4 linked regions of the Homo sapiens genome follow. The protein of the gene in region 3 interacts with the protein of the main gene of each other region in a biochemical or structural test. Each region holds a gene or a part of one and is shown on either strand. Other genes may lie near its edges. The genes, in order: UBR5, UBE3A, UBE2L3 and RNF216.

Region 1 (7,931 bases), on a different chromosome or scaffold from region 3:
GGAAAATAAGATGGATTACTGATAGAACCTCTTGGTAGTTAATTGGTGTTAAGTGATATAACTTTACAGAATAATAGACAGATGTCTTGTTATTTCTGACAGAATTCCTGCTAAATAGAAAGCATTAAGGAATATCAATTCTTACCTTCCAGCCTTTGAAAGATTAAAGTAGTTATCTTTTTAAAACACTGATAAATAGTTTATGAGATGGTCTATAATTTGCTAAATAGAGCCAGGAGTTGAGTCTTAACTGCCTGAAACAGAGCTAAGGATTCAGATGGCTGATGTATAGTGTGTTTGTATTGGCATCATATGTGGGTATGATGTAATTATGCTTTACTTTATATTGTTCCAGAGTTGGTTAGATTTCTTTGCATGTCATCTTTGTATATCACTTTTTAAAATTGATATATAATTTCTGGTTTATATTGTGTGTATGCTAAGGCTTTCCAGTTGAAGAAAATGGATGGCTAATTAAGTCCTTTCCTGAAAGATGAACTGCTATGTTCTTACTTTTTTAGCTGAAATATCCTCAAGTGAAAAAGAGGAAGATGTATTCATGGGAATGGTTTGCCCATCAGGTACCAACCCTGATGACTCTCCTTTATATGTTTTATGTTGTAATGACACTTGCAGTTTTACATGGACTGGAGCAGAGCACATTAACCAGGTAAGTTATTTCTACATTTTCCTGTATTAATCATATCTTTGTGTCTTTTTTCGCTATGACTATCACTAGACTTACAGTTTTCAGCTTTGGAATTAAGTCTGATATGAAGAAAGTTGATTTAATTCCTAAGTAAATGAGGCAAAAGAGCTGATTGCTCAGTTAAATATGGCATACCATGAAAATTGGAAATTTTCACTGGGTAGTATAATCTGATCCACAAATCTTGATACAGATTTTATAACTACAATGCCTTTTTGGGGATGATACAAATTATTTTTTTCTACTGGTAATATTTCTATTTGTATATCATAAACTGTATATTTGCTGTAGCCCTTTATAAGTTCTAGTTTTCCAAAGCACATTAATTTTGTTTGTTGAGATTGAATTGTTCTAGAAAATACCAGAAATAATTATTATGATGAGATATATGCATACTTATAATTATTCCTTTAAAAGTACACTCTTAATTTTAGGATATTTTTGAGTGTCGAACTTGTGGCTTGCTGGAGTCACTGTGTTGTTGTACGGAATGTGCAAGGGTTTGTCATAAAGGTCATGATTGCAAGTGAGTACAATTCTAGTTTTCTTTAGTTTAATATTATAAGCTGTTTAGATTTATATTGCTGTATGGAAATAATCTGTACTAAGTCATGTTTTACTTCAGAAAGCATGAGGTTACTTACGTTTCCCTTGTTTAAGTCAGTTTATGTATAATAGTGTGATTCTTGATTTAAAGTATACTGTGAAATGTTTGGTTTCTTTGCTAGTTCAAACATTGCCCTCCTTAAATAAAAGTAGGTGATTATACATTGTAACTAGGATCAGATTAGTCTTTTGAGAAGTATATCTACAGAATGTTCCTGAGTGTATTATGCAGCGGAGGTCTCAGGTCCCCTGTAGTGGGGTATACTAGGAGAAAATTGCCATAGGCCTAGAGGGAATCATGGTGAATGTTTAGACTGTGTCTTAAACTAAATGCAACAGTCTTTCATTCAGCAACAGTTACCACAGCTAGTTCTGTTGGTTTTCAGAGACCTGAGAAGCAATGAAATACCTAGCACTAACATCTGTGGTGTTTTAGGATTATGGATAGGGACTTCAGTATAAATGGCTACAAATGTTATAATAGAGAATTGGACTGTAAAAACCATCTACCGTACCATTAAGTAATTGTATAGGACAAATGAAAAATTTTAATAGATATTAAAAGAATTCTGGTTGGTATTTTTTGTTTTCCTTATTTTAAGTACCTAAAGGTGTGATAATCTGTTGTTATTGATTGTTTTCCAAGTGTACTAGATGCCAGGGTGGTGGTGAATAGTCCTGACAGTGTTCACATCCCTATCAGAAGCAAGAAATATCTGCCCATAGGGTTACAGGGTTCATTAGGTCATATAGGAGGACCACTTGAACAGGACTGGGAATTAGGGAAGAGATTCCAAAAGTGATTGTACCTTAGAGTACCTCTTCTCATAGGAATTCTGTGTTGCTTTATAGATGTCATTACTACCAAGTAATCCTTCTTGTTATATAAGCTTTGACAGTTATACTTTGCATTTAGAAATTAACAAGGGCTCTCTCTGGTTTCAGTGAGTTATACCTTCATAATGTCAACATAAACCTTTGTATGTTTAAAAAATTTCAGTTTTTGTACTTGTGTATAAATTCTCTATAGACTCAAACGGACATCACCAACAGCCTACTGTGATTGTTGGGAGAAATGTAAATGTAAAACTCTTATTGCTGGACAGAAATCTGCTCGTCTTGATCTACTTTATCGCCTGCTCACTGCTACTAATCTGGTTACTCTGCCAAACAGCAGGCAAGTGGGATTTTTAGAACATACAGTAAGTTAAATCAAAAGAGCGCAGCACAGCTGAGTAGCTTTTCAGCCTCCCTCCTCACGACAACATTCTGTTTTGCAGGGGAGAGCACCTCTTACTATTCTTAGTACAGACAGTCGCAAGGCAGACGGTGGAGCATTGTCAATACAGGCCACCTCGAATCAGGGAAGATCGTAACCGAAAAACAGCCAGTCCTGAAGGTGAGTTAATTAGACATTTATGACACTTGTGGGAAGCAATATGTTTTATTTTTGTTTTGGTCACTATTTCTTTTTCATTTTAGATTCAGATATGCCAGATCATGATTTAGAGCCTCCAAGATTTGCCCAGCTTGCATTGGAGCGTGTTCTACAGGACTGGAATGCCTTGAAATCTATGATTATGTTTGGGTCGCAGGAGAATAAAGACCCGTACGTATTCATTAAAACCTTTTTAGATTTATGTATTTCCTACGTTAGTGTAGACCTTTTACAGTTCATTCTGTCTTTCGTTTCTCCTCAAGTCTTAGTGCCAGCAGTAGAATAGGCCATCTTTTGCCAGAAGAGCAAGTATACCTCAATCAGCAAAGTGGCACAATTCGGCTGGACTGTTTCACTCATTGCCTTATAGTTAAGTGTACAGCAGATATTTTGGTAAGTTCTTTGAATGTGTATTACAAGTACATGAAAAGTATGTTTTTCAAGTACTCTTCTTTGCTGTGAAACTAGAAAAGAATTTAAACCTTAAGATCCAGTGCGAATGAGGTTATGGTAATAACACACTCAGATAGGGATGGGGTGGCATTGCATCGTTCCTTTCTCTGGAAAACATAAAACTATCAGTGCCCTCAGAACCTGTCATAAATAAATAATTTACGATGTGAGAAAAATAAAGGCATGTCACAGAATAATGTAAAATTTAAAAACAGAAAAATATCAGCCTAATACTAGTGTAATCTTGAATCAAATTATAGCCTGACCACTTACTGGAATATGATGCAGCAATTTAAAAATAAATCGTATTGTAAATAACGTAAAAAAAAAAACCAAACAACCAAACTGTGAAAATTGGGTGTTCTCTGTAGCTAACATTTATACAAGAAGCTGCACACAGAAAAGAGACTAGAAAGTAATAATGGTTCCATGAGGGAGATGGGATTATGAATTTATTCATATAAATATTTGAGTCTGCTTTGCTGTTTTGGAAAGTGCCCCAGACTGAGTTTATGTTTTCTTCTTCTGATTTCATATATTTGGTATTGTTCTTCTAAATATTAGTTGATATACCAAGGACTGTGGGACAAAAAATAAGAAATCGTACATTTAGGACTCACTGTATGTCAAGCACATTGGCAGGTATATTTCATAAACTGACCTTGTAAATGTTTTGGTTAAATTTGTTTTGAGATTTTATTATAAAATGTTAATACTTAAAAAATGTTAGAACTTATAACTTTATGAATGTCTAAACATCTTATGAAGTATCTTAACATTAATAGAGTGAATATAATTTTTTAAAGCTTTTAGATACTCTACTAGGTACACTAGTGAAAGAACTCCAAAACAAATATACACCTGGACGTAGAGAAGAAGCTATTGCTGTGACAATGAGGTTTCTACGTTCAGTGGCAAGAGTTTTTGTTATTCTGAGTGTGGAAATGGCTTCATCCAAAAAGAAAAAGTAAGGCATCCTTTTTGATTTTGGTTTAGATACCATTTTCACTCTGTTTTTGTGATAGTGATTTATGTATATGAAAAGATAGATTGCTGATATTTCTCTTTTTGTTCTAGCAACTTTATTCCACAGCCAATTGGAAAATGCAAGCGTGTATTCCAAGCATTGCTACCTTACGCTGTGGAAGAATTGTGCAACGTAGCAGAGTCACTGATTGTTCCTGTCAGAATGGGGATTGCTCGTCCAACTGCACCATTTACCCTGGCTAGTACTAGCATAGATGCCATGCAGGGCAGTGAAGAATTATTTTCAGTGGAACCACTACCACCACGACCATCATCTGATCAGTCTAGCAGGTAAATTGCTACCAGGTAACAGATTCTGATTAATCCTTCTCTGGAAATGTCGTGTTTGACTTCCTAAAACCTTTGCATAAGCACTCAGGTGGTGTACATGATCATTTGTGTAACATAAATAACAACCAGAAAGCCGGAATTTTAAATATTTTTCTACAACAACTGTATTATCAAGGACAGGGCTAAAATAACTCCATTATAAATGTTTCTAATTATAAGATTATTTGTTCTTAAGTTTCATTTATCTTTTCTATTTGTTTGATAGTTTCCCTAATTACACTGTAAGCTTGTTGAATCAGGATGTTGAGCAACTTAAAACTTTCCGATGTCCTTTAGCACACTGCTTCTCAAACTTTAATATGTATGAAAATGACTTGGGGCTCTTATTAAAATATAGATGCCCACTCTAGAGGTCTTGAGGTGGGGCCTCCAACTTCGTATGCCTTTCAAGTTCTCAGGTGATGCCAATTCTGCTGGTTTAGGGGTCAGACTTTTCAGTAATAATGCTGTAGATCTTTGGCAAATATTTAGTGTATTTTGTTTTTTCAAGTCTGATTTTATAACCATGTGCATGTGTGATGATGTTTTAATAAGGACCTTTAGGATCTAAAGACCCTTTTCCTCCTTTTCTGGAAAACATCTCTGTTAATAAGGATGGCCTGCTTTAGTGTTTGGGATAGTTCCCAAGTTGTTACGCTTGGATTTGATCTGGGTTGGTGTTGAGTATCTGCTCTCACTATTCTCCTATATGCCAGTATATGTGTCCCAATTTTTCCTTTAATGTCAGGTGTCCCTTTAATCTAAATCCAGTTTTGTCTGACAGAGCTCTCCCATAGTATCCTTGATACTGATATACATCCAGGACTTGTTGAAAACTGTTACAAATCAAGCTGTGTATCTTCAGACTTGTCAAATCTATCCCATGATTAAATAATTCTGCTTGTGAGATCTGCTTGGACTCTGTATGATTTTCCTGATCTTGATACCCTGTGAGGAACTCATTAGTTACTTAAGTGGTATTACTTTGTGAATTCTTAGTATACTTCCCTTGATCTTGTTCTGGAACATAAAAAATTGATGGCTGTTGAACAGATTTTGGGATCGTCTCATCTCTAAACACTGCCCTTGAAACTGTTCCTACTAAGTTTCAAGATTTTGTGTCATCTTGTTCTTAGTCTCATTATTAAAGTATTACATACTCTTAAACTCTCTTTATTCCATTCCCTTTGCTTGTTTCTTGAGACAACTTCCTAAATCTTCCCAGAAGGAGATCTCATGTGATAATCAAGAAATAGTGCTAATGTTTTCTTCAACTGTTAAAAGTTCTTTATTATAGTACAGTACATTCTTACCCATAAAGGGTGTATTTTGACTAGTGTTCCAAGGATGTCTTAAGTTGAAAAACACAGACCTTGACCATTCTCTGGGATTTCACTTGTCTTGGATTATAGAAGGTGTATATCACCCCATTGAGTGTGAAGTCTTAAGAGTAGCTTTTTCTGTTGCTTCTTTCCACCTCTTGAAAATGTTCTTGTTATGTTCTTAATAAATAATCTGTTTCTACTTTATTTCCATGTCTCTCATATAACAGTAACTAACAGTTACTGAAATTTTAGTATGTACTAGGAACTTTCCTAAGTATTGTAGACAGATTACCTGTTTTAATTTTCCCAATATGTCATAGATAACCACTATCATTCTAGTTTGTCAAATGGGGAAACTACGGCTCAGAAAAGTTAGGCAACTTCTCCAGTGTAACACAGCTAATTAAAGTTTAGACGCTGGACTTACCTTGACAGATACTTCCTTTTTTTTTTGTATTCTCCTGAATAGTAGATGGCAGAGTAGAGAGGAAGACTACTTGGTGCTTGCTCATAGTGTTGAGCCACCACACAGTTAACCAACACTGAACCAGGCTTTATAGTGTAGAGTGCAGTCCAAAACTCTCCAAAATGCAGACTTGTAGTTAGAAGTTCTCAAAAGAGACCTTTTTCCATTCTGCATCTATTCATGGCTGAGATAGGTAAATCTCTCGAGGTATGATTTTTCTGTTTCACTCCTTCATGGTGTTGCCCTTTTAAGATTTATGTTTAGCTTTATATATGTGAGGGGGACAGAAGAGGAGATTCCTGTGATGACTTTCTATTCTTTGCTTAGCCTCCAGACTCTCATGTGAAATCTGTGGTTCCTTGAAGCCCTTCTAGCCCAAGAGACATCAGTGGGTCCCTTTGGGATAAATGGTGGCACTTGTCTCTCCAAGCTTTATACAGTACAGTCGTTTCTCTTTATCACCTGCACAGCTGTCCTTTTTTTTTTTTTTTTTTTTAATATCTAGCATATATATGTGTTCCTTAACAAGAGTGGTTTCTCTGCACAGTCTGCCAAATTGCTGGAACTAGAAGTCCCCAAAACTTAGTAGTGTATTAACGGGGCTTTTTAGACTAGGCTTCAGGACTGTTGTGCTTCATTGTGCCAGCAAGTCTGTTGGGAAAAAAGTTGAAGTCACACTAACTGGGGAGTTACACAGGTTGAGTATTCCTAATCTGAAAATGAGAAATCTGAAATGCTGCAAAACCGGAAACTTTCTGAGCACCAACATGATGCTCAGAGGAAATGCTCATTGGAGCATTTTGGATTTTGGGATTGAGGATGCTCAACTGATAAATATATATAATGCAGATACTCCAAAATTTAAAAAAAAAAAAAAAAACCCAAGATCAAAACACTTCTGGTCCCAAGCATTTCAGGTAAGGGATGTTCAACTGTAATACGTTTTATGTATTGGTATTTTTAAATTACTCTTTTTAAATTTTTTGTAGCGTTTGGGTCTCGCTGTGTTGCCCAGGTCGGTCTTAAATTCCTGTCCTCAAGCAATCCTCCCACCTCAGCCTCCCAAAACATTGGGATTACAGGCATTAGCCACTATACCTAGTCTGTTTTGGCAGTATTATACATACTAACTGCATAACTTCTTAAAGTAACCACTTTGAGGGGCCTATAGTTCTTGTGGATGTTTGTTCTAGGATGTTTGTTTTAAAAAAGAAATACTCATTAGTTGTGGCTTCACACAGTGCTTTTATGTTTTAATATTGAAATCTCTTTAGTGGTTGGAAATACCCTTTTTCATCTCTACAGATTTTCTCTTAGCCTTTCCCACTTTTGTAATCCACGATCTCTGTTTTACCAGTTACTTATAGTTCTAGTGTTAAACATCATATTGAGACTACTTATCTGTTTGTTTGAAGGCATGGTGTTTCAGTCAACTCTCAGGTCTAATTGGTTTGATTCTCATTTCTCATAGCAACTGAGATAGGAAAGAACCTGTCAGTGCAATCACTTAAAGGTCTTTTGACTTCAACATCTTTTACCCCGTTTCATAATCTATAAATAATAGGTGACAGGGTTATT
Region 2 (7,931 bases), on a different chromosome or scaffold from region 3:
TTCTTGTTGACTGCTTAGAGACATCTTTCCAAATGTCCTTCCTTGTCACTTTTTCAAAGTTAGGAGCAGGGATTGCACGTTTTTTTGATTGGTAATTTTTGTTTCAAAGGTTTGATTCAGATTCAGAGTTGATTTTGCTAGGTATGGTGGCTCACGCCTGTAATCCCAGCACTTTGGGAGGCCGAGGCGGGCGGATCACCAGAGGTCAGGAGTTTGAGACCAGCCTGGCCAACATGGCAAAACCCTTATCTCTACTAAAAATACAAACATTAGCCAGGTGTAGTGGTGTGCACCTGTAACCCCAGCTACTCAGGAGGCTGAGGCAGGAGAATCACTTGAACCCAGGAAGCGGAGGTTGCAGTGAACTGAGACTGCGCCACTGCACTCCAGCCTCAGTGACAGAGCAAGACTGTTTAAACAAACAAACAAAAAATTAACAAAATCTTATTTCTAGTGGTTTACATATTAATGATGCTGGCAACTTTTAGTTGAAATGTATTAAACAGCCTCGCAGTTTTTATTTTTATGAATTCTGCATACAATAAATAAATACCAACCAAAATATCTATACAGGCATACCCCAGAGATACTGCCGGTTCAGTTTCAGACCATGGCAAATAAAGTGATTATGGCAGTAAAGTGAGTCACACAAATTTTTTTGTTTCCCAGTGCTTATAAAAGTTACGTTTACATTATACTGTAGTCAAGTGTGTAACAGCATTGTCTAAAAATAAGTACATTATCTTAATTTAAAATCATTGCTAAAAATGCTAATGAAGTGAGCACATTTTGTTGGAAAAATGGTGCTGGTAGACCTGCTTGATGCAGGGTTGCCACCAAAAAAACTCAGTATCTGCAAAGTGCAATAAAGTGAGATACGCCTGTAATGTCTTTTTTCTCTTCTGTTATTACAAGCACTACTTTAAGTCTTCAACTACCGAATACTTGTAGACTATTTAATGAATTAATATTTTCATCATATTTATATTGAGAAAATTAAGAAGCTGAATTTAGTTAGAAAAGGTTTAGAATATCATCAACTCTTGAGGATGAGTTGGAAGCTACTTTATCTGTCATTTTTCACATAACACTAGTTTGCCCTTCAAATCATACATTTAAAAATGATCTTAAGATACATACCAAGTAGGGATTATGTTGTTATAAAAAGCTAGAAGTAAAATTAAGACTTTAATTTCAAAGATAATTTCTCTATAAAGAATAGCACAAGATATGTTCAACTATTCTCAGAGATGCATCAAGATATGACTTTTTTTCCTACTAGAAATTATATCTATGATCAATCATATTACAGAGATATTGCTGTTATACTCCTTGTGACTGATGAGGGGGGTTTTTCCTATCACCATGTTATCCCAACCCTTTAATGAATCACCTTTGAAACTCAGAACAGGTAGCAGCACAGAGGTTGCTAAGAGTAAATACATTCACCACTGCTGCCAGAAATGACCAACGGTGCACCAGAAAGAAGAAATACTGGTGAATTCCCACATACCACGACGAACAACCTTATAAAATAACAGAACAAATGAATATAAAGTAACATACAGCCATCCCTTGGTATATGTGACAGGGATTGGTTCCAGGACCACGTGTGTATACCAAAATCCATGCACGCTCAAGTTCTGCAGTTGGCCCTGTGAAACTGGCATGTATGAAAGTCAGCCCTCTGTATATGCAGGTTCTGAGTCCCACCAATACTGAATCTGCTCTTAGTTGAGAAAAAAAATCTGCATGTCAGAGGGCCCATGAAGTTCACAGCTGTGTTGTTCAAGGGTCAACTGTAATATAAAAATAACATTTATTGCTAGATAGAGTTGATATTCATTCTAGTGTTTATATACTTGAGTCTTAGAGCAATAGCCTTTGGAGACAACTTCCAGGAAGGTACGTGTTTGCATGCCTTCTCACTGCAATCCATCAGTAGCTGCCACTTGAACCAGTCTTAGCAGGGGATGGGGAAGCCTATGTCTTTCAGAATTGGATGATGTAGTACACAGAAGTAGACAGTAGAGTAGTAAGGGCATTTGCTTAAAAGCAGATAGAACTGGGAACCTCTACATCTTTCTGTGAGAATTCAGGGCTTAGTTTTTTAGGGTGTAAAATGGAAATACTAGTATGTATCTGGACATATTATCTTAAGAATTAAATAAAAGACTACCATTTCACTCAAAAAGTGCTTGATCCTGGGAAGCCATGTAACAGTTCACAAATGCAGAGTTCAAAAGAAAGGAAAAATTGCAGACATGGTAGCCTTATTTTAATTATCTTCTAACCAGCAGTAAGCATACTCTAACCAGTGAGGAATACTAGATAATCCATACGCCAAATGCAGGAGATTACATGAGACTTATATATAACAACACTTCATTCATGAAATAAATCACAAGATTAGCTCTGAAAAATGGTGATTATATTACAAATACAAATCTAAGTATATAGATGACAATTTGTGAGTTTGCTTATTTGGGAATTAGTACCTAGAGATAAAGGTCTGAAGCAAAATCACACACCCCTTTGGTGAATCAAATCTTCCTCTGAAGAACTAAGTACCTCACCTAATCAGAACAGAGTCCCTGGTATAGCCACCGTCATATTCTGTAGTTTCTTCTAGTGCTTGGAAATCTAGATTCTGCAAATTCAAGAAAATATGTCTTAGTTATCTGCTATACTACTGTATCATTACAAACAATAAATCGATACATGACTTTTTGCAGACACCTGCTTTCTTACCCGGCTTCCACATATAAGCAATTCAATTTCTTCTGGTCTGAATAAGTACTTTAAGGGAGATTCATTGGTCACCATATGAAAACCTCTCCGAAAAGCCTTGAACTGTTTTTCTACTGATTTATTGAGAATGTAGTCAGAATAAAGATTGACAAATTCCTGTAGAAAACATTAATCACAAGAACTTCTTATAATATGCTATGCAAACAAAACACAAGTTATTGGGCTGCATAGCTTTTTAATTTTTCCAAGAAAAAAACATTCAAGAATATTCTTAAAAATTCAATTTTACACCTACTTCTTAACAATTTCACAATTCTCTGTTATAGCCAATATTAAGCTATGAAAAGGCCATATACATAAAACTGTCAAGAATATTCTTAAAAATTCAATTTTACACCTACAAAGAAAACTACTTCTTACAATTTCACAATTCTCTGTTACAGCCAATATTAAGCTATGAAAAGGCCATATACACAAAACTGTCATACTTATAAATGTCAATTTCGATAATGTATTAAACAGAACTGAATATAAATGCTGGAGACGCAGAAAATTCTTTAGGTTCTCTCAACTAGGTATGTAAACAGACACATTTAAACCATGTATCCATCTATTTATAAATGCCAACCGTTTTAAGAGAGTACAATATATTTGATTTAAGCAAACCAGGAAGTCCCAAGTTTTCTACCATAGAATATTTGGTAAGCTGCCTACTGTATCCAGTTCAGCAAAAATGTGGAAGTACTGACTGACACATAAACTACTGTATCAAATCATAAAAGGAAAATGTGCTTTGTACCCTTAGTGTGTATAATATTTAATCAAAAAATTATATCAATATAAACATGTTTCTTAAAGGTATACTATATATTTGTCATAATTTTTTGCTTGTTATGTTCTGGGTTATTCCCATTCCCGATGAACACATTTTAGTCAATAGAAACCCAAATCTGACGTAAAGTATACTTTTCAGAAATGTATTTTTATCACAAACAGGATATACATGTGTAAATTAAATGTAATTTTTATTTGTTCTGTGATAAAGACCTTAATCATGAGGTTCCTGCTTACAGCTTAATACAAGAAACACCCTGCTTCTTGCTTTATACTACAACCACACTTAGCTATTAACTATCTCCTGCTTCATGTCCTCTTTCTCTAAAAGGGGCTTTAGTGCCCAACTGTGTGCTTTCATACCAACTTATATCCAAGATTTAGAAAAGTGGACTCTAGCATTTACATAAACTTAGTTACTTGTTTTTTTTTTGTACAGACTATATTAGATACTTCTTTAAAAATTATAAGCATACATGCTTTGAAAGTGTTAATGAAGAGACAAAATGTGACATAAAAACATTTATTACCTTCCTGTTTTCATTTGTAATTGGAATTTTATCACCATTTTCCTTTAGATCATACATCATTGGGTTACCAAAAAGATCTGTCTGTGATATCTGGAAAGTGATCATCATGTCATCTTCCACATTCCCTTCATACTCCAATAAATCTTTTAAACTCTGATATAGAACCTAGCAACCAGAAATGGTAAATTGAGGCCACCATAGAACTACAAAATACAACAAATAATTTATATCACTCTTCTTAGAAGACAACAAAAATCTTATCAATAAAAATTGTAAAAAGTGTAGACAGTATCCCTCCAGTCCCCCAAATAGTTTCCAACCTATAAAAGAAAGATTGTCAGTCACTGTGATGTCCCATTCTCTGCTGAGAAACCCCATACCACCAATTTAGCAATAGAATTCACACTGTGCTCTATGAGAAATTCTGTGGTGTCTCAAGGTGGGGGTGGGGGTGGTAGGAGCAGGCACACTCGTTGTAACTACCAAGACCCTTAGCCAGGGCTACTCTGATTTTTACCTATCTCTTAAGATTTCACTAAAACACAAACAAAATGTTTAGAAACACTTCTCTATGAAATCAATCTTACAAAAGCTTCGTGCTGACAGCAATATATAAAAATGTCCCCCTTTGAGTTTTTAAGTGTTTCTGGTACTTCGGTCAGATTAAAACATTTTTATCTTATTGATAAGAGTATCAACAAAGATTCTAAACAAAAACTTTAAAATTTTGACATAAATTAAATTTTTGCATTTAAATAAAATCTAAGAGACTGAATTAAAAAAATGACAAAGAACTTACTGGGTGAGAGTCTCCCAAGTCACGAAAAGTTCCTTTTTTCCCCATTAGCTTCCTGTAGACAACCATGGGAAAATGTACATCCAGTATACAGTTATTGTAAATAGCCAGACCCAGTACTATGCCAATCAGAGTAAACTGACCCTCAGTTTCAAAAGAAGATGGATTAAACCAAAACAATTTTGTAGATTCATCGTATGTGAACATACCTATAAGAAATGATTTTTAAAAATACATTACTTTTGTATTTTATTAAGGACTGATGAATAATACAAATATAAACTTAAAATAATTATGCATATAAAACATTTAAAATATATGTAATTAGGCATGCAACATTGATTTCTATTATATTAGCACTTGAGAAAACAATGTCCACATATATCTGCTATAAATTGGGGTGAATGGTGATATGTAATTTTATGAAGCCAAAGGAATAAAGTAGTAAGTAATTTGGTGGCATCGGGTAGAAAAATACGTTAATTAAATTCAAGCTTTCTAATTTTCTACTAACACATAAGAAAAGTTATATTCATGCTTTATCCACCCATAGCTGAAAAATAAACATAAAAAAACAAAAAATGGCTACATTTCCAAAGTGTTTCATTTATAAAAATATAATTACTTATATCTGTACCACACGTACTATTTTTGAAAACAATTTTTCATTTTTTTCCTTGAGATGGAGTCTCGCTCTGTTACCCAGGGTGGGCTGGAGTGGCACGATCTCAGCTCACTGCAACCTCTGCCTCCTAGGTTCAAACAATTCTCCTGCCTCAGCCTCCTGAGTAGCTAGGACTACAGGTGTGCACCACCACGCCAGCTAATTTTTGTATTTTTAGTAGAGAAGGGGTTTCACCATGTTTGCCAGGATGGTCTCAACCTCTTGACCTCGTGATCTGCCAGCCTCAGCCTCCCAAAGTGCTGGGATTACAGGCGTGAGCCACCACACCTGGCCTAAAAAACAATTTTTAATCACAGTAAAGAAAGGTTCGTTTTTTCAAAATTAGACAATGGTGCCATGAAATTTTTCTAGCATTTTCCTAATAAAATCAGATGATCTGAAATACATAAACCTGGATAAATCTGATGAACTTAGATAAACAAAGCTATTCAATACACATGTTAATTATGGGCCAATACGTAAAAGAAAAGTAGTTTCGTAGTCTTTCAATTTCACATGGTCTTCACTATGCAAGCCCCAATCATGGAGGCTTTTTTTTTTTTTTTTTTTTTTGAGACGGTCTCGCTCTGTCGCCCAAGCTGGAGTGCAGCAGCACTCAGCTTAGTGCAAGCTCCGCCTCCCGGGTTCATGCCATTCTCTGGCCTCAGCCTCCGGAGTAGTTGGGACTACAGGCGCCTGCGTGGAGGCCTTTTTTATATCACTCATTGGAAAATTGGGGCCCGGTGTGGTAGTTCACACCTGTAATCCCAGCACTTTGGGGAGGCTGAGGCAGGCAGATCACTTGAGCTCAGGAGTTCAAGACCAGCCTGGGCAAGATGGAGAAACCCCATCTCTACAAAAACACAAAAAATAAGCTGGGTGTGGTAGCATGTGCCTATAGTCTCAGCTACTTGAGAGGGTGATGCATGGGGATGGTTTGAGTCTTCAGCCTGGGAGGTGGAGGTTGCAGTGAGCCGAGACAGAACCACTACACTCCAGCCTGGGCCTCAGAGCCAGATCCTGCCTCCCTCCACCAAAAAATAAAAGATTAAAAAAAAGGAAAATTGGAATCTTTGGAATGAGTACTACTAAAAATTGATTTCTTCCCTTTTAAATGACTAAGGAAAAAAATTTTAATTGAATTTAAATCATTTTACTACATGTTTAGTTGCTACTGTGAAACAATGAAAACATCTTAAGAATTAAGTCTGAAAAAAATCTGTAATTTCCAATAGAAAAGTAGAGCTTAGAAATCAGAAATCAAATTATACAGTATATAAGTATTTTAACCTGTTTATAAGAATTTTAAAATCTTTGAAAATGTCATTGTCACTTTAAGTTTAAAAATAAGGAGCTTTAACATGTTTCCTTGATCACTAGGAGTATGAATTAAGCTTAGGACATTTTCTGAATGCAAAATGGTTTGAAAATTAAACAATTCATATTTGAGTTTCATGGTTTCTATCTAAACATTTTTTTTACAGGCCAAGTTACAACATCCATGGAAATGCTTTTAGTTATAAGTATGGTATTAACAGGATCAAGAACAGCTGACAAATAATTACAATTAATAAATTTGTTCAAGCTGACAATGGTGTGTCTAAAAAATTAATGAATTTAATAAAATGTCACAAATGCCCTTCCTTGGAACCAAGAGCAACAAGCTATAAGTTAATCAGAATATAACTCTGAAGTTCCATTTTAGGCACATTTTCTCATGTTCCAGGGAGAAAAGCACCATAACCTCCTGGTAAAATACTCCTTTTTGATACTTCTACTGCCATCACTTCAGTTATCTTACTGGAACTGCTTAATCTATGTTTTTTCTTACAAGTATTTCTGCATATAATGCAAGTATGCTTTATAGCTAAGGTTTAACATTTCTAGATACATCAAAAGCTAGAGCTAAGGTTTACCAAATTTAAGAACTTTATGAAGTTTATAATTTTCTATCTCAAAAAGGGCGTCGTCTTATGTATCTCTGATTTACTTAGAACAAACTACATACAAATGGCATAGCTTTTTAGTTATTAATAAAACACTAGCTAGATTATAGATAAGGGATGCGTGTGTGTGTGTGTGTGTGTGTGTGTGTGTGTGTGTGTGTGTGTGACTAAGAACAGTAACAGAAAGGTCAACTCAATTAGAATCAACAGGCTATAACAGCTCAAATCTCAAAGCTGAAGGGAAATGACATACATTATTCTATGCACACTCCTCACAATTCTGATGGTACCTTCAGTGGAAACCTTTTCCTGTAATTGTCATGTACTCAATTTTAAACGTAAGCAAGCTCAGTTACTAAGTGGTTATATTTACAGTAGAAACTGAACCAGTTCAGAATTATGAAGTTAAG
Region 3 (7,931 bases):
AGCGTGGTGGTGTATGCCTGTAGCCCCAGCTGCCAGGGAGGCTGAGGCAAAAGATTGCTTGAACCCAGGAGGTAGAGGCTGTAGTGAGCTGAGATCACACCACTGCACTCCAGCCTGGGAGACAGAGTGACTCTGTCTCAAAAAAAAAAGAAATGGAACTAGGCGGGTGGGGGCATGGTGGCTCATGCTTGTAATTCCAGCACTTTGGGAGGCTGAGGCAGGAGGATCGCTTGAGCCCAGGAGTTTGAGACCAGCCTGGGCAACACAGGGAGAACCCATTTATTATTATTATTATTTTAATAAAATAGAGACGGGGTCCTGCTATATTGCCCAAGCTGGTTTTGAACTCCTAGGCTCAATCGATCCTTCCACCCCAGCCTCCCAACATGCTGGGAATATAGGTGTGAGCCACTGCACCCAGCCCCCATCTCTATTTATTTAAAAAAAAAAAAAAAAAAGGAAAGGGAAAGGGAGAAGGAAAGGGAACTAGAAATCAATAACAGAACTAGAAAACTCACAATTATGGGGAAATTAAACGTACTCTCTAACAAGCAATGGGTCAAAGAAGAAATCACAAGGGAAATTAGAAAATATCCTCAGAAAAAAAAATGACATACCAAAACTTAAGTTATGCAGCAAAAGTAGTGCTCAAAGGGAATCTACAGCTTTAAATACCTACATTGAAAAAGCAAGTCTGAAATCAATAATCTAACTGGATATTTTAAGGAACAAAGAAAGTAATAACACAAGAAAGAAGTAAATAGTAAGCACAGAGGAGATAAATGAAAAACACACACACACACATTAATGAAACCTTCCTTGAAGAGATCAACAAAATTGAAAAAACTTTAGCTAGACTGATAAAAGGAAAAAGAGAAAAGACTCATATTATTAAAATAAGAAATGAGGCAGGGCATAGTGGTGTAATCCCAGCACTTTGGGAGGCTAAGGCAGGCGGATCACTTGAGTCTAGGAGTTCAAGACCAGCCTGTGCAATATGGCAAAACCCCATCTCTACAAAAAAAAAAAAAAAAATACAAAAATTAGCTGGGCGTGGTGGCTCATGCCTTCAGTACCAGCTACTCTGGAGGCTGAGGTGGGAGGATCGCTTGAGCCTGGGAGGTTGAGGCTGTGGTGAGCCATGATCATGCCACTGTACTCCAGCCTGGGCAACAGAACGAGAGCCTGTCTCAAAAAAAAAAAAAAAAAAAAAAAAAAAAAAAATCTACATATAAATGGATCAAAGATCCAAATTTAAGAGCTAAAACTATAAAACTCTTAGAAGAAAACTCAGGAAAATTTGCATGACCTTGGATTTGGCAACAGTGTCTTAAAAATCAAACCAAAGTATAGGCAACAAAATTAAAAATAGATAAATTGGACTTCTTTATTAAAAATTTAAGGCCAGGTGTGATGGCTCACATCTGTAAATCCCAGAGCTTTCAGAGGCTAAGCCAGGAGGACCACTTGAGCCTGGGAGTTCAAGACTAGCCTGGGCAACACAGCAAGACTCCATCTCTACAGAAAAAATAATTAAAATTAGCTGGGGGTTGCAGCATGTGCCTATAGTGCCAGCTACTTGGGAAGACTGCTTGAGCCCAGGAGTCTGGGGCTGCAGAGAGCCATTATTGAGCCACTGCACTCCAGCCTGGATGACAGAGCAAGACCCCTTCTCTAAAAATAAAAATTAAATTAAAAAATTTAAAACTTTAGTGCATCAGGCCAGGCACGGTGGCTCAAGCCTGTAATCCCAGCACTTTGGTAGGCTGAGGCGGACAGATCACTTGAGGTCAGGAGTTCGAGACCAGCCTGGCCAACATGGTAAAACCCTGTCTCTACCAAAAAATACAAAAATTAGCCAGGTGTGGTGGTGCACGCCTATAGTCCCAGCTACTCGGGAGGCTGAGGTGGGAGAATCACTTGAACCCGGGAGGCAGAGGTTGCAGTGAGACGAGACTGTGCTTCTGCATTCTGGCCTGGGCAACAGAGTGAGACCCTGTCTCAAAAAGAAACAAAAAAACAAAAAACACACCATGCAAAAACATGTTCTACATCCTTAGTATGAAGAAAACAGAAATCAAAACCACAATGAGACAGCACTACATACCAACTAGAATGGCTGTAACGTAAAAACAAAAAAAAAGTAAAATAACAAATGTTAGCAAGGATGTGGATGAACTGGAACCTTTGTAGTGGAAATTTAAGACGTTACAGGATGGGCGCAATGGCTTATGCCTATAATCCCAGCACTTTGAGAGGCTGAGATGGGTGGATCACCTGAGGTCGGGAGTTCGAGACCAGCCTGACCAACATGGAGAAACCCAGTCTCTACTAAAAGTACAAAAATTAGCCAAAATTGCTTGAACCCGGGAGATGGAGGTTGCAGAGAGCCGAGATCGCATAACTGCACTCCCCAGCCTGGGCAACAGAGCAAGGCTCTGTCTCAAAAACAAGAACAAAAATTAGCTGGGCATGGTGGTGCACACCTGCAATCCCAGCTACTCGGGAGGCTGATGTATAAGCATCACTTGAACCCAGGAGGCTGAGGTTGCAGTGAACCAAAATCACACCATTGCACTCCAGCCTGGGTGACAGAGTAAGACTGTCTCAAAAAATAAAATAAAATGGAATAAAATAAAAAGAAATTGGCTGGGTGTGGTGGCACACACCTGTAGTCCTGGCTACTCAGGAGGATTGCTTGAGCCCAGAAATTCAAGGCTGCAATGGGCCATGATCACACCACTGCACCCTAGCCTGGGTGACAGCACAAAACCCTGCCTCAAAAAACCAAAACATTATTATGAAGTTATGAAATGGTTTATTAAAAACTGCATGAAGGCCAGCGTGGTGGCTCACGCTTGTAATCCCAGCACTTTGGGAGACTGAGGAGGGTGGATCACAAGGTCAAGAGACTGAGACCATCCTGGCCAACATGGTGAAACCCCGTCTTTACTAAAAATACAAAAATTAGCGGGGTGTGGTGGTGCGCACCTGTAGTCCCAGCTACTTGGGAGGCTGAGGCAGGAGAATCGCTTGAACCCGGGAGGCGGAGGTTGCAGTGAGCCGAGATCGTGCCACTGCATAGCGACAGAGCGAGACTCCAACTCAATTAAAAAGAAAAAAAAGAAACTGCATGAAAAAAGGCTGAGAGGAAGTATGCTGAAGGTTAAGAGTAAACACATTCACTGGGCTAGAAGCTTCAAGAAGGGTGACTACCACACCTCTAGTTCCTAAAGGGCAGTACACAAAATGTAACTGAATTTCTTGATGATGTGATTATGGGTAATATTTTCTTCCTTAGACGTTACCTTAGCATCTTAGATGAAAAAAAATTACAGAAAAACAAATGTTTAAAGGGAATAGACCAGAGTTGCGTTGGCAACAATGAAGTCTCTAGGAAGTACCTCCCCAGCCTTCCCTCCCACCTGCCCTCCTCTGTGCACTACGACCAGGGCAATCGCTAGGTGGCTACCCAAGGACAGCACCACTCTCCACTAAGGACCAGGGCTGGGCTGCCATGCCTTCATCGGCCTGGCTCTACTTTTACCCCAACTGGGCAGACCTCAGGTGAGTTTGTATAGTAGATTCCCATGCTGGCCCAGCCCGTCCAATGCAGGAAGACCTAAAGCCCAGGTTGGGGTACAAGTGTGGACCCTGGGGATGTCAGATGTCAACAATGCCTTAACTGCTCTGGAGAAGGAAGAAGACTTCATTGAAACATTCCTCATACAAACCCAGGGGCCCTGGAAGAAAGCAAGGGAGAGGACCGAGAAGAAGTGGTATACACAGGGACAAGAGCAGCCCTGGCTGTTGCTTACCGTCTCCAAGGTGAAACTTTGGCCTGGATAGCTCCCCAGAGCCTCAGCCCAAGCACACTTGGATTCTACCAGCCAGCCTCCACCTTTGCCCTAGTAAGATCTTAGCCCACTGCTCCATAGCCCCTGCCAGCGTGAAACCAGAGGGAGGCCTTTGCATGAGTTGGGGCAGAGCATGCCCAGCAGCAATCTACCCGTGGAGCTGGCTAGCAGGCTCTCAGGCCACTAAATTCTCAGGGCCAGACTGCCCAAGCCTTACCACTTAAAACCATTCCATTCATTTTTATCATTTTCCAAAGAGCCACAGATTAACTGTTCATTTCTTTGCTCAGTAGACTACACAATCTCAATTAGAAAAGGGACAAGAGGTCAGATGGTCCCGGCCATCTTCAGGTCCCTAGAGTAGGCAAGGGCTGCACTCACAGGCCAACCCCTCCCATGCAGAGGTGTCTCTGCCACCCACACCCTTTGCCCTGAGCCCTAACACCATCAAGCCTAAAGAAATCTAAAGGACTCATCTTCAAAATCAGACTGGAAGCTCCCAGATTTAAACATTCTGAGCATACTAAATCATTACAAAGCATATCTTTCCTTAGTTATCCAAATGATTATGGAAATAAACTACAAATCCAATAACTGCTGATCAAATTCAGGGACTTAAAAAAAAAAAAGCATGACCTTATAACCAGCATCAAGAAGAAAGCATCTACAGGAGGGAGCATGCTCCATGCTCACCTTATAACCAGCATCAAGAAGAAAGCATCTACAGGAGGAAGCATGCTCCATGCTCACCTTATAACCAGCATCAGGAAGAAAGCATCTACAGGGAGAAATCATCTACAGGAGGAAGCATCTACAGGAGGAAGCATGCTCCATGCTCATGACCTTATAACCAGCATCAGGAAGAAGCATCTACAGGAGGAAGCATGCTCCATGCTCTGCTTTGGCAAAGCAGCCAATCCATCCATGAGAACAAATTATATACAGGACAGCGGCAGGCACAGGGCAAGGGCCAGAGGCTCAGATGTGCAAAGTGGGAATGAAAAGGAACAGAGAAGGTGAGTGGATGAGGAAGAACAGGAAAGGAGGGCACTCACGCAGGACAAGGGTGTGAGCTGAGGTAGCTGAAGGCTACACAATGACCAAGTGAGGCCGCCTGGTGGACAGATGGTGCAGCTTCCGGGGAGAAGGCAGGAATGGAGACAGGTGTGGGAATCCTTCATGTCTGGCATAATCATCTATGATGCCGAAAGTAGTAGGGTCCCGAGACAAAACAGAACAGGAGAACAGCAGGAGACCAACAAGAGTCATGTTTAAGAGTGAGGAGGAAGGAGTGGCAGAACAGGAGCGAGTGGCAGGCTGGTCACAGGACTGGGGGCTGGAATGCTGCCCGTGCTCCAAAAGCTCAGGAGGCAAGCAAGGGCCATGATGCCAGCACTGCCGAGCTAGAGGTGTGACAACAGTGGGGGCAGCCTGTGGGCTGGGTGTGACGTGGTTTCAGGAGAGTGAGAGGAAGGGGGATTGCAAACTGGAGTTAATTATAAGACAAGCCTCTTGAAGGGGAGGGGATCAAAGGATGCAGAAAAGAGTAGGCACTAAGAGGGTGCTAAGGAAAGCCATCGTTAGGAGGGCCTTGAGCCCATCAGAAGGCAGAAGACTGTGAGATGGGGGAGCTGGGCTGTGGGGGCAGACACTGGAGGCATAAGCCCCAGAAAAGACATGGGGTGAGGGGAACATGTGGGCAATTAGGAAAAGGGACTTGAGACAAATGGAAGGCACAGGTTGGAGGGGACCAGGAATAAAGCCCGAAATACAGGTATCCAAAGGGTTAGAGACATGAATGCAAAACCAAGAGAGAAAGCAAAATATCTAGAGGGGAATGCTTGTCCCCTCCTGAGGAGCTCAGAGAAGAAGGTCCTGCTGATCCATCAGGCCAGGCGCAGGGAAGTCAGGAAAGAGCAGGAGCACAGACACACTCCTTTTCTCTGTGTCTACAGATCTGCAAAGCTCAGGACTCCCTGAATTTGACAAAACGAGTGCCAAGATGTGACTCTACTCAGGACCCAAGGCTACACTCCCTACCTTATCACCCTAGAGCGACAGCCACTTCTGTGCATCTGCTGGCTGCCTAGACTAAGAGCCTACTAAGGAGCAGAAAAACAAGCCCAACAGCACACACATCACCTTAAAGAATAATCTGGTAGGAAGTGGAAGTGTTCAATACTCACAGGAACAATAAGCCCTTGCCAAGTCAATAAATTAGCTTCATCAACCTGGATGTTACGGAAGTTTTTCATCCCACATTTGCGGATTTCTTCAAGCTCCTGTTGATTGACAAAGCATAAAGGGGTGTCAAATAGGGGAAAGCACCACATATTAAGATCCCTCCTGATGCCCTCAAATTAAACCAAGTGCCAAAAATGCTAATGACAAAATTGGACAGTGAGGACTAAACTGTGCTTGGAGTGGTTAAGGAGGCATGGAGCTGCCATGGCGGTCCCCTCTGCAAGGTTGTTGCCTCTCCCCATGCCCCAGACCAAGACAAGCCCCCACCTCAGTGAACCCCCCTGAATAGGACAGGGGGAACCATGCTTCTGCAGACGTACCACCTCCTCTTTGGGTTGGTCACCATGGCTGTTTAAATCCCTCAGCACCCTGCATAGGGCAGACATGTGGCAGGAGCTATCCTGAGGTGCTCTACACCTGATACCTTCCAATCAAGATTCATTAAGCACTGATTATGCACCGGATGCTGAGAAGCTAAAGATGAATAAAACTGGGGACTGGGAACAAACCAGACACAAACGCATATCCAGTTTTCTACCCAGTGCTATAAGTGTGATTTCAGAAGGACTCCACCTCAACATGGGCACACAGCAAAGAGAACCATCCAGTCTGGGACTGGGGTGGGAGTGGGGGGGTGGGGACGGGAAACCTTCACTGAGCCTGTTTCCTCAGCTGCAAAACAGACCCAGAGTGCAGAAAAGGAAAGGGAAGCCATGTTGTGGGCAACAGGACCCCTTGCAAATATGTGGGGTTATTGTTGTATAAACAGTCAATGCAGCAAGTGCCATTTCACCCAGAAAGCACAACTTTACGACTTCAGGGTCCTGCCTGAGATGTCTTCAGAACTGTCTGTCACCTGTTTTTCAACTGTGCACCAGCCTGACATTTCCCATTGCCTCCAACATCTCAGTGAATGCCTGGCAGGCGCTATAACCCAAACCACCCAGCAATGCCCTCCTGCCAGAACACCAGCCTCGCCAACATTCCTCCACTCTGACACATGAAGTGCCACTCTACCCGCCTCAGCCCGGCCTCCCATCCAGTGGCACAAAAGCCGCCTCCACACCTGTCAGGCACCTTCTCTTCTGCAGCCCGAGCACCATCCAGCTGAGCCCTGCCTCCTTCGCCAGGCTGCTTCCTCTGGCCCAGCTCCAGCACCCTCCAGAACCTCCTTACGTGGTACTTCAACTCACAGTGGCTTGGGGGCTCCCTATCAGCCCCCACATCAAGCCCAAAAGATCCTTGCACCTCATACTTCCATCACACAGTGGTAGTTTAAAAGGCACCCTGAGGCTACACAGGCAGGGAAGGAAACAATTGGCAAGGAAGGGGGAACCGGAGCCCAGGTTACTGGTTCTGAGTAGGAAGATGTGCTGGGCGCCCGGCCCAGAGCAGCAGAGAGGGAGAGTGCAGTGAATGAATACACGGAAGAGGTGGAACACACTGGTGCTTCATAGCAGGCAACAGGCACAAGTTTCCCCCCACAGGGTGCTCCTGCCTGTCACCCTCATCTGCCCACCACAATCACCTGGACTTGGGCCCAGCCCCAGAAATTCTGGTCCAGCAAGTGTGGGTGGAGCCTGAACATAGGGATTTCTCACAGGCTATAGCTGTGGTGAGAGAAGAGGCACTGCTGGGAGCGATGATGGATCCATTTCTCCCTGAGGAGGCGTTAGCGGCATGGGCTGCAACCTCCTGCAGTGAGGAATGGGGTGGCCTGGCCCCTCTCCACCTGCATGAGGCCCCTCTTTCCCTGCATAAGGAGGTACGGAACCTGAGGGACCACTCCAACCTGCCAACTGCCACCTGGTCCTCCTGCTCACAAGACTC
Region 4 (7,931 bases), on a different chromosome or scaffold from region 3:
TGGTTTTACACTTTTTGACTTTACTGTGGTGTGAAAGTGATACACATTCAGTAGAAACTGTAATTCAAGTACCCATACAATCATTCTCTTTTTCACTTTCAGTACAGTACTCAATAAATTACATGAGATACTCATACTTTATTCTAAAATAGGCTTCCTGCAAGAAGATTTTGCTAAATCGTAGGCTAATATAAGTGCTCAGGCTTTTGTTTTCCTTTTTTCAGGAGCTTGCAAGCTCTTGCTTCTTCTGGTGCCTGTCTGAGGTATCACAGGCCCTCTGGAGCTGCTGTAAGCTGCCCAGCTCTTTTTTGGCCTCAGCAGCTCCAAGGCATCTAGAGTAGGTTGGGTTCTGCCAGCAGTGAGTTGGGTGAGACAGAAGCCAGTCCCTCAGGCAGCCCCTTGAGAAGCCCAAATGCTGAACACATGCTCTACTCTTCCCCTGGACCCAAAAAGCAGCCTTCGAGGTGCACTGGACTCTGCCTACTGTACCGTGGGTCCTCTGGCGCAGTACAAACCACCCAGCTTTCTCTTGTTCTCAGCAGCCCCCAGGGACCTAGACCATGCCAGGTCCCATCAGTGCTTCATCGAGTGAGACAGGAACGAGAGTCTTGGGCAGACTCCAGAAAACCTAGAATGCTGGACTCATGCTCCAACTCCTTCCCTCCCGAGAAGAGCAGGGAGAGGGCAATGAGGAGTCAGTACGTGCTAGTTTCACCATCCCATTTGTCCTCAGAGGTCCCCAACCTGGTGCCCTTTCCTGTGAGACAAGACAGAAACCAGTCCCTTGAGCAGCCTCCTGAAAGGTCTGAATATTAGATATATGTTCCAGTCTTCTTTTTCCTCCCCAGAAAGATGCCAGGAGTTGGGAGCTTCCTCCCAATCACATGGTGCTGTGCCAGGGGGAGGAACTCTGGAGAGCCAGCGTCACAAATTCCCCAGCCTTTGATGCAACTGGTTTCTGGATTTCTCACAGAGAGAAATGGTCCTTCCGTTGTTGTTGAACTGTTCTCTCTATGGGAAAAAGAGGGTCTGGAGCTTTCTCTTCTGTCATCTTGACACTACCCCACACCACATGCCTTTACGGCTTTTTCTGCAAGTGATCTAACTACTCACATGTTTCACTGACCACAAGAAGCTACATGGCTACCTTCAAGTTCAGCAGGCCATGTATATTCCTCCCATAGACAAACAAAAACATATGTGGTGTTCCTATTTGGGATCTTAAGAGCCCCTGGGAAGCTCCCACCAACATGCCAAGTTGATACTCACTAGATGCTGTTCCAGACTCATGTGTGCCCTCAGGCTTTTATTTTTTAAATTTTTTTCTTTTAAAGACAGAGTCTTAGTCTGTTGTCCAGGCTAGAGTGCAGTGGCGCAATCATGGCTCAGTGCAGCCTCAATCTCCTGGGCTCAACTGATTGTCCTGCCTCAGTCTCTTAAGTAGCTAGGACTATGGGCACACACCACCATGCCTAGCTGAGTTTTAAAATTTTTTTTGTAGAGATAGGGTCTATGTTGCTCAGGCTGGTCTCGGACTCCTAGTCTCAAGAGATCCTCCTGCCTCAGCCTCTCAAAGTGCTGGGATTACAGGCATGAGCCACTGGGCAACCAATGCAGCTGCTTTTAAATGTCTTCAGGCTGGGGGTGGTGGCTTACACCTGTAATACCAGCACTTTGGAAGGCTGAGGTGGGCGGATCACTGGAGGCCAGGAGTTCAGGACCAGCCTGGCCAACATGGTGAAACCTCATCTCTACTAAAAATATAAAAATCAGTCAGGCGTGGTGGCGCATACCTGTGATCCCAGCTACTTGGGAGGCTGAGGCAGGAGAACTGCTTGAAGCCAGGAGGCGGAGGTTGCAGTGAGCTGAGATCGTGCCACTGCACTCCAGCCTGGGCAACAGAGTGAGACCCTGCCTCAAAACTTAAAAACAAAAACAAAAACAAAAAACGTCCTCAGAGAATAATGGTCTCTCCTCTTCTTTGGCCTTCCCAATTGTACATAAGCACTTTCACTGGCAGACCTTCTTTGAAACCTTACCAGGAAATGTAGTTCCCAGCTCCTTCTAAGCAACTCATGAAGACCCAAGAGGCTGTGCAGTGCTGTACATTTCTCACCTGGACTACTCAATAGGCAAGTAGACTTTCCTTATATTTTATCTCTCCCCACCTCAGGACAGTGTGCTGCATGGGCCTGCCCCTACTCAGCTTATGAGCCTCCTTCACACTCCTAGCACCAGTAAGCGTCCACATTGCTGCCACTCCCGGGGCCTAGAACATTTCTCCATCTCCACTCCACTCCCACCCTTTCCATCCTTTGGCTACTTCCTCCTTATCTGCTGCATCTTAGCGTAGGCATCACCTCCCCAGGCAGTCCAACACCTGACCCACTGGAAGCACACAAGGGACACGCTAGCACTCTGCTTTCTTAAGAGCTGCAAGATGCCAGCGACTGTTGTGACAATTGTTATAGCAACAGCCTGGGGTGCGAACATATAAAATGGCCAGAAATATTAATGCTGAAAACAAAAGAAATAAAGTTTTGATCCATTAGTTTAGTTTATTCTTCCTTTTCTAATCTCTACCTTAATTTCTTTACTCTCCCCAAGGCAAAGATATTGCAGTGTTCAACTCTAATCATGCAATTTTAGAAAAATGGCTTAGAGCGTATTTGTCTAGGTGGATGCTAATATTCACTAAAAACTCTAAGTGGCTTCTAAATAGCTGAAAGATTTTAAGACATTCTTAGTTCACAGGGCGCCAAGTTAAAGGGAACAAAGATCTGCAACAGTAATGCACCTAGACAGCTCTGCTCCCACGTAATATAGTCAGTTCTCATGAGGAGAAACAGTCAAATAAATAACCTACCAGATGTGATGGAGATGCCACTAAGATGCCCAGTTCCTCAATCAAAGAAGCGTCGTTTGGACTTTGAAAATGGCAAAAGGTGTGTGTGTGGGGAGGGAGGGGTAGCAGGGGCTATTTGAGCACAGGTGGTGAAGAGAGCAAGCAAGAAAAATGTTGACACAGTGGAAGAAAAACTAAACACTTCCCACTTTACATTATAGTATCTGTCCTAAAGAAGATGATATAAAATAGGAATCCAGAGCTTTGTAACTGGAGTGGCAAGAGTGGCTGCCATCTCAGTAACCATGTCAACCGTTACTCACAAAGTACTCGTCCTCATTTGCTTATGAAAAGGAAAGCACTCAAATCCTTCTTATACATCAGCAGTCAGGTAAACAGCAGATATTTGGGCCATGAGGGCAGCCCATAATACCATAATTCAATATACATCTAGAAAAAAATGTGCCTCCCTACCTTTCGGCAGTGAGGATTAGGACAGCTGAACCTCTTCACATCACTGTCCAACAGAGCCGGAAAGCTACAGGACGGGCACCTAGAGTCAGAACAGCAGAACTGACATTACTTCAAACATTAAAGCCTGATCTGGTTCCAGCTCCATGTGGCTGTTCATATGAAGATGGAGTTTTGAGCTGGACATTCACATCCCCTTTATACTCCTTAGTTTTCCTTAAAAACACAGATTGAACCTCTTCTTTGTGCTGGCTCTTATCAGGAAACATAAGCACCACATGAGGTCCTGACTGAATATAAACCACTCAATAAACACGTCCCAACCTTAATGAGAACTCCTTGCATATACCGATTTCCCTCCAGCCCAGGGCACCATGATTGTATCTACGGGCCAGAAGATTTGGGGGTGCCAAGATATGTAGACAGAAGTTTGAGCTACAGTCTGGGCGCGGTGGCTCACGCCTGTAGTCCCAGCACTTTGGGAGGCTGAGGTGGGTGGATCATTTGAGGTCAGGAGTTGGAGACCAGCCTGGCCAACATGGCAAAACCTCGTCTCTACTAAAAATAAGCTGGAATGTGGTGGTGCACGCCTGTAATCCAGGCTACTCAGGAGGCTGAGGCATGAGAATTGCTTGAACTCAGGAGGCGGAGGTTGTAGTGAGCCAAGATTGCACCACTGTACTCCAGCCTGGGCGACAGAGCGAGAATCCACCTCAAAAAAAAAAAAAGAAGTTTGAGGGGCAGATTTTTCCATTAATAGAATTACTGGTTACTCAATGGTTCTGAGGCGTAAAAAATAAAAATAAATAAGTAAAATTATTGATAATCTTATTTCTCAGCAAGAAATGTCAAAAAACCTGGAAGATAAACACAATTTTCATCATCTGATGCAAGTGCCCAGGTAGTTTTCACAATGGGGAAGAGTTGGCAGATGGCACGCTCTGCCTGAGAACGAACCTGACAAGCTCGTCGGCGTAGGCTGCCGCAACCTCCTCCTCGGCTTTTCGCTCATAGTACTTATACAGGATGGTCTGGGGGAGCACCTTCTCCAGCTCACTGGTTGGGAACGAACACGTGCAGCTGCCTTCCATGCAGCTGAGCTCCAACTAGAAAAAGGCGAAAAGGCAAAGAAAAAAAAATCAATACCATTTATAGAAAAATAAAAAGCGTCAGTGGTTAAAAACATAGATCCTGAGACAACATAGCAAGGATCTCTCTGCCTGTTCATCTCTGAGAAATCACACTTAAATCATGGAAACCATGAAACAAAAATCCAGTACATCTTTGATATCACTAAAGGACCTCTATTAGCCCAAATCACAATCCACAAAGACTGAAAGTGGCGGAAGGGCAAATGGCTTAGCAGACCACACACAGAAGCCCATAGCTTAGGGTCTGAAAAGGAGATGCTGGGGAGAAGTTGTTCCCCTCTACAGATATTAGAAAGCTGGAGAACCTCTGGAAAGCAGAGCTGAGTGGTGGGGAGGGGCAGGGACTCAAAGTAATAAACTGAAAACAGGGACATGGGTGGAGCCTCTAGTTCCTACCCGCTTCAGAAGGAATTGGCTGACTCTGAGAGAAATGAGGAAGATCTCCTGAACAGCTGGACCACACGGCTCTGGACTGGAAACCACTCATAGAGGAGAGCAGAGCTGAGGGGTGGCCTGAAGTCAGAGTCTGAAATGGAGTCTGCATAATGAACAGAGAACTCTCCAGACCTTTCCTCCCCCTCAGTTTCAGAATGTTGGAAAATGGGCTCACACCCACCAGGCAGGAGGCAGACTGAATCACCCCAGGTAAGAGACTTCAGAGCCATTCAGGTTCATAATATAAAAGCTAACTGGCTCCTATGCACCTAGAGTCAAACTCACTGGTCTATAAGCCCCACTACTCACACAGCTTTCAAACAGCTCTTTAACATGAACAAAAAGTGTCAGACATGAGGAATGCTTCCCACATGAAAGACAAACACCAAAGAAAACAAATGGAAAAAGACGACATTTTAAAAATAACTAGCTAAAATTTATGAGGCATTTACCATGTGTCAAACAATAAGTTCATTAAACTCATCACCTCATTTAGCTTTCAAAACAATGCTATGATTATTTCCATTTTACAGAGGAAGAAACAGTGGCTTAAGGAATTTAAATTGCTCAAGATCACAGGGCTAGTATGGCTGATGGGGGCATGGCCCAATGCATTCTGCTTGACTCCAAAGGTCACGCTCTTTGAAAAAACATAAACTTTATTTATTTATTTTTCTGAGACAGAGTCTCGCCCTGTCACCAAGGCTGGAGTGCAGTGGTGCGATCTCAGCTCACTAAGCCTCCCGAGTAGCTGGATTACAGGCACCCACCACCACACCTGGCTAATTTTTGTATTTTTAGCAGAGATGGGGTTTCACCATGTTGGCCAGGCTAGTCTCGAACTCCTAATCTTGTGATCCACCCAACTTAGCCTCCCAAAGTGCTGGGATTACAGGCATAAGCCACAGCGCCTGGCCTATTTTTCTTTTTTAGAGATGGAGTTTCACTCTTGTTGCCCAGGCTGGAGTGCAATGGCACGATCTCAACTCACCACAACCTCTGCCTCCCAGATTCAACCAATTCTCCTGCCTCAGCCTCCCCAGTAGCTGAGATTATAGGCATGCGCCACCAGGTCTGGCTAATCTTGTATTTTTAGTAGAGATGGGGTTTCTCCATGTTGGTCAGGCTGGTCTTGAACTCCTGACCTCAGGTGATCCGCCTACCTCGGCCTCCCAAAGTGCTGGGATTACAGGCGTGAGCCACCCGGGCAAAAAGTCATCTTCTTAATCACTGTGTTAGTTTTCTATTGCTGCTGGAACAAAATACCACAAACTCGGTGGTGTAAAACAATGTAAAATTCCCATACTGTGTTTGTTATGCTGGTGTCCAGAGAAACTCACTTTGGAGAGAGAAATATGATCTTGTGTAAAGTAAGTTATGTTATTTTAATATATATTTAATCCAATAGGCTGCAAGGTTCTCTCTTTCTGAGGTAACCTTCCCTCTGAATACAAATAAGATGATGAACGAAGGAGGTGCTCCTCTGCGGCTAGGCGTGGGAGTGTGGAAGAATTCTACTGTGCCCTGAAAAGAAATCTGCTGTGCTCAGAGAACCCACATAATCACATACATCAGGTAATGTACACATAAGCATACCAGCAGAACTCCACCTCACCCTCAAAGAGGCACTTACACTTATCTATCAACATGGTCTCCTTAGACTCCAGGAATGTGTCCTATATACATGGGACATATTACACAGTTCTTACCTTTCCAGATCCAAAGACTGCCTCTTGGGCATATCTGATGAGACACTCTTTGCAGAACAAGTGAGCATCTGCGCACTGCGTCAGCTCCTCGAATGGAAATTCCCCATAGCAGCAGCGACACTCAATCAGCTGGCCATCCTGCAGGCAGTCAAGAAACACACATGAAATGTCCTGCACTTAAGGAGAGGGGGAGCCTTGTCTCCCATCCTCATCTCTCTGCCACCCCCCACACAAATTCTGAGGTAAAGCAACCCATTTTAGGGGCCATAAAACAATGATATGCTGTTTCGTGCTATATAAATCTAGCTCAAGATACTAACACAGTATTAATCCATACCTAAAACAGCGAGGTTTTCGTGTTTTTTTTCTGGTATTCTTTAGAGTAATTCTTTATATAAAGTTATCATATTCAATCCCATGGTGCAAAGGGAACTAGAACATCTGTACTCAGATGCTAATGTGATTATAAACAGCAAGGATAAGGAGTATGAGAGATGTTACCCAAAAAACTTTCAAAAGTTGAATTTTGTTCTTGTCATAAGGAGTGTGAATGGGTCTATCGAGGTCTGCGCTTTATTTTAAGGGACTATTGAAGCTATAACTAAAGCAGCAACCTCAAGTAATGTACCAGGCTATTGACTCCTTTTATTAACTATAGCAACGGATCCAATCACCAACTCATTCTTTTTTTTTTTTTTTTTTTTTTTGAGATGGAGTCTCACTCTGTTGCCCGAACTGGAGTGCAGTGGCACGATCTTGGCTCACTGCAACCTCCACCTCCCAGGTTCAAGCGATTCTCCTGCTTCAGCCTCCCGAGTAGTGGGGATTACAGGCACCCGCCACTATGCCCAGCTAATTTTTTGTATTTTTAGTAGAGACGGGGTTTCACCACGTTGACCAGGCTGGTCTCAAACCCCTGACCTCGTGATGTGCCTGCCTTGGCCTTCCGAAGTGCTGGGATTACAGGAGTGAGCCACTGCATCCAGCCCCATTCTTTTATTTATTTATTTTTAATTTTTATTAGAAATGGGGTGCTGCTATGTTGACCAGGTTAGTCTCAAACTCCTGGGCTCAAGCAATCCTCCCATTTTGGCCTCTCAAAGTGCTGGAATTACAGGCACGAGCCACGGTGCCCGGCCACCAACCCATTCTTAATACCACATTAGAAAGGGTCAGTAGCCAGGTGTAGTGGCTCACACCTGTTCCCAGCACTTTGGGAGGTTGAGATGGGTGGATCACCTGAGGTCAGGAGTTCAAGACCAGCCTGGCCAACATGGTGAAACCCCGTCTCTACTAAAAATACAAAAATTAGCTGGGCAT

Evidence for each region.
Region 1: the proteins of UBE2L3 (region 3) and UBR5 form a complex in vitro, tested with the Homo sapiens proteins (6 studies listed by BioGRID).
Region 2: the proteins of UBE2L3 (region 3) and UBE3A form a complex in vitro, tested with the Homo sapiens proteins (32 studies listed by BioGRID and IntAct, with this or other methods).
Region 4: the proteins of UBE2L3 (region 3) and RNF216 form a complex in vitro, tested with the Homo sapiens proteins (5 studies listed by BioGRID).

What each region holds. Positions count from the first base shown.
Region 1 is NC_000008.11:102,290,197-102,298,127, reverse strand, and holds part of UBR5 (E3 ubiquitin-protein ligase UBR5), read left to right. Parts: intron 1-521; coding exon 522-670; intron 671-1,143; coding exon 1,144-1,235; intron 1,236-2,345; coding exon 2,346-2,492; intron 2,493-2,595; coding exon 2,596-2,714; intron 2,715-2,797; coding exon 2,798-2,924; intron 2,925-3,016; coding exon 3,017-3,146; intron 3,147-4,012; coding exon 4,013-4,173; intron 4,174-4,283; coding exon 4,284-4,523; intron 4,524-7,931. UniProt on the Homo sapiens protein: E3 ubiquitin-protein ligase involved in different protein quality control pathways in the cytoplasm and nucleus. Mainly acts as a ubiquitin chain elongator that extends pre-ubiquitinated substrates.
Region 2 is NC_000015.10:25,351,777-25,359,707, forward strand, and holds part of UBE3A (ubiquitin-protein ligase E3A), read right to left. Parts: intron 5,121-7,931; coding exon 4,915-5,120; intron 4,281-4,914; coding exon 4,116-4,280; intron 2,908-4,115; coding exon 2,752-2,907; intron 2,651-2,751; coding exon 2,577-2,650; intron 1-2,576. UniProt on the Homo sapiens protein: E3 ubiquitin-protein ligase which accepts ubiquitin from an E2 ubiquitin-conjugating enzyme in the form of a thioester and transfers it to its substrates.
Region 3 is NC_000022.11:21,591,069-21,598,999, reverse strand, and holds part of UBE2L3 (ubiquitin-conjugating enzyme E2 L3), read right to left. Parts: intron 6,140-7,931; coding exon 6,044-6,139; intron 1-6,043. UniProt on the Homo sapiens protein: Ubiquitin-conjugating enzyme E2 that specifically acts with HECT-type and RBR family E3 ubiquitin-protein ligases.
Region 4 is NC_000007.14:5,708,442-5,716,372, forward strand, and holds part of RNF216 (E3 ubiquitin-protein ligase RNF216), read right to left. Parts: intron 6,750-7,931; coding exon 6,612-6,749; intron 4,423-6,611; coding exon 4,274-4,422; intron 3,470-4,273; exon of another isoform or gene 3,399-3,469; coding exon 3,320-3,398; intron 1-3,319.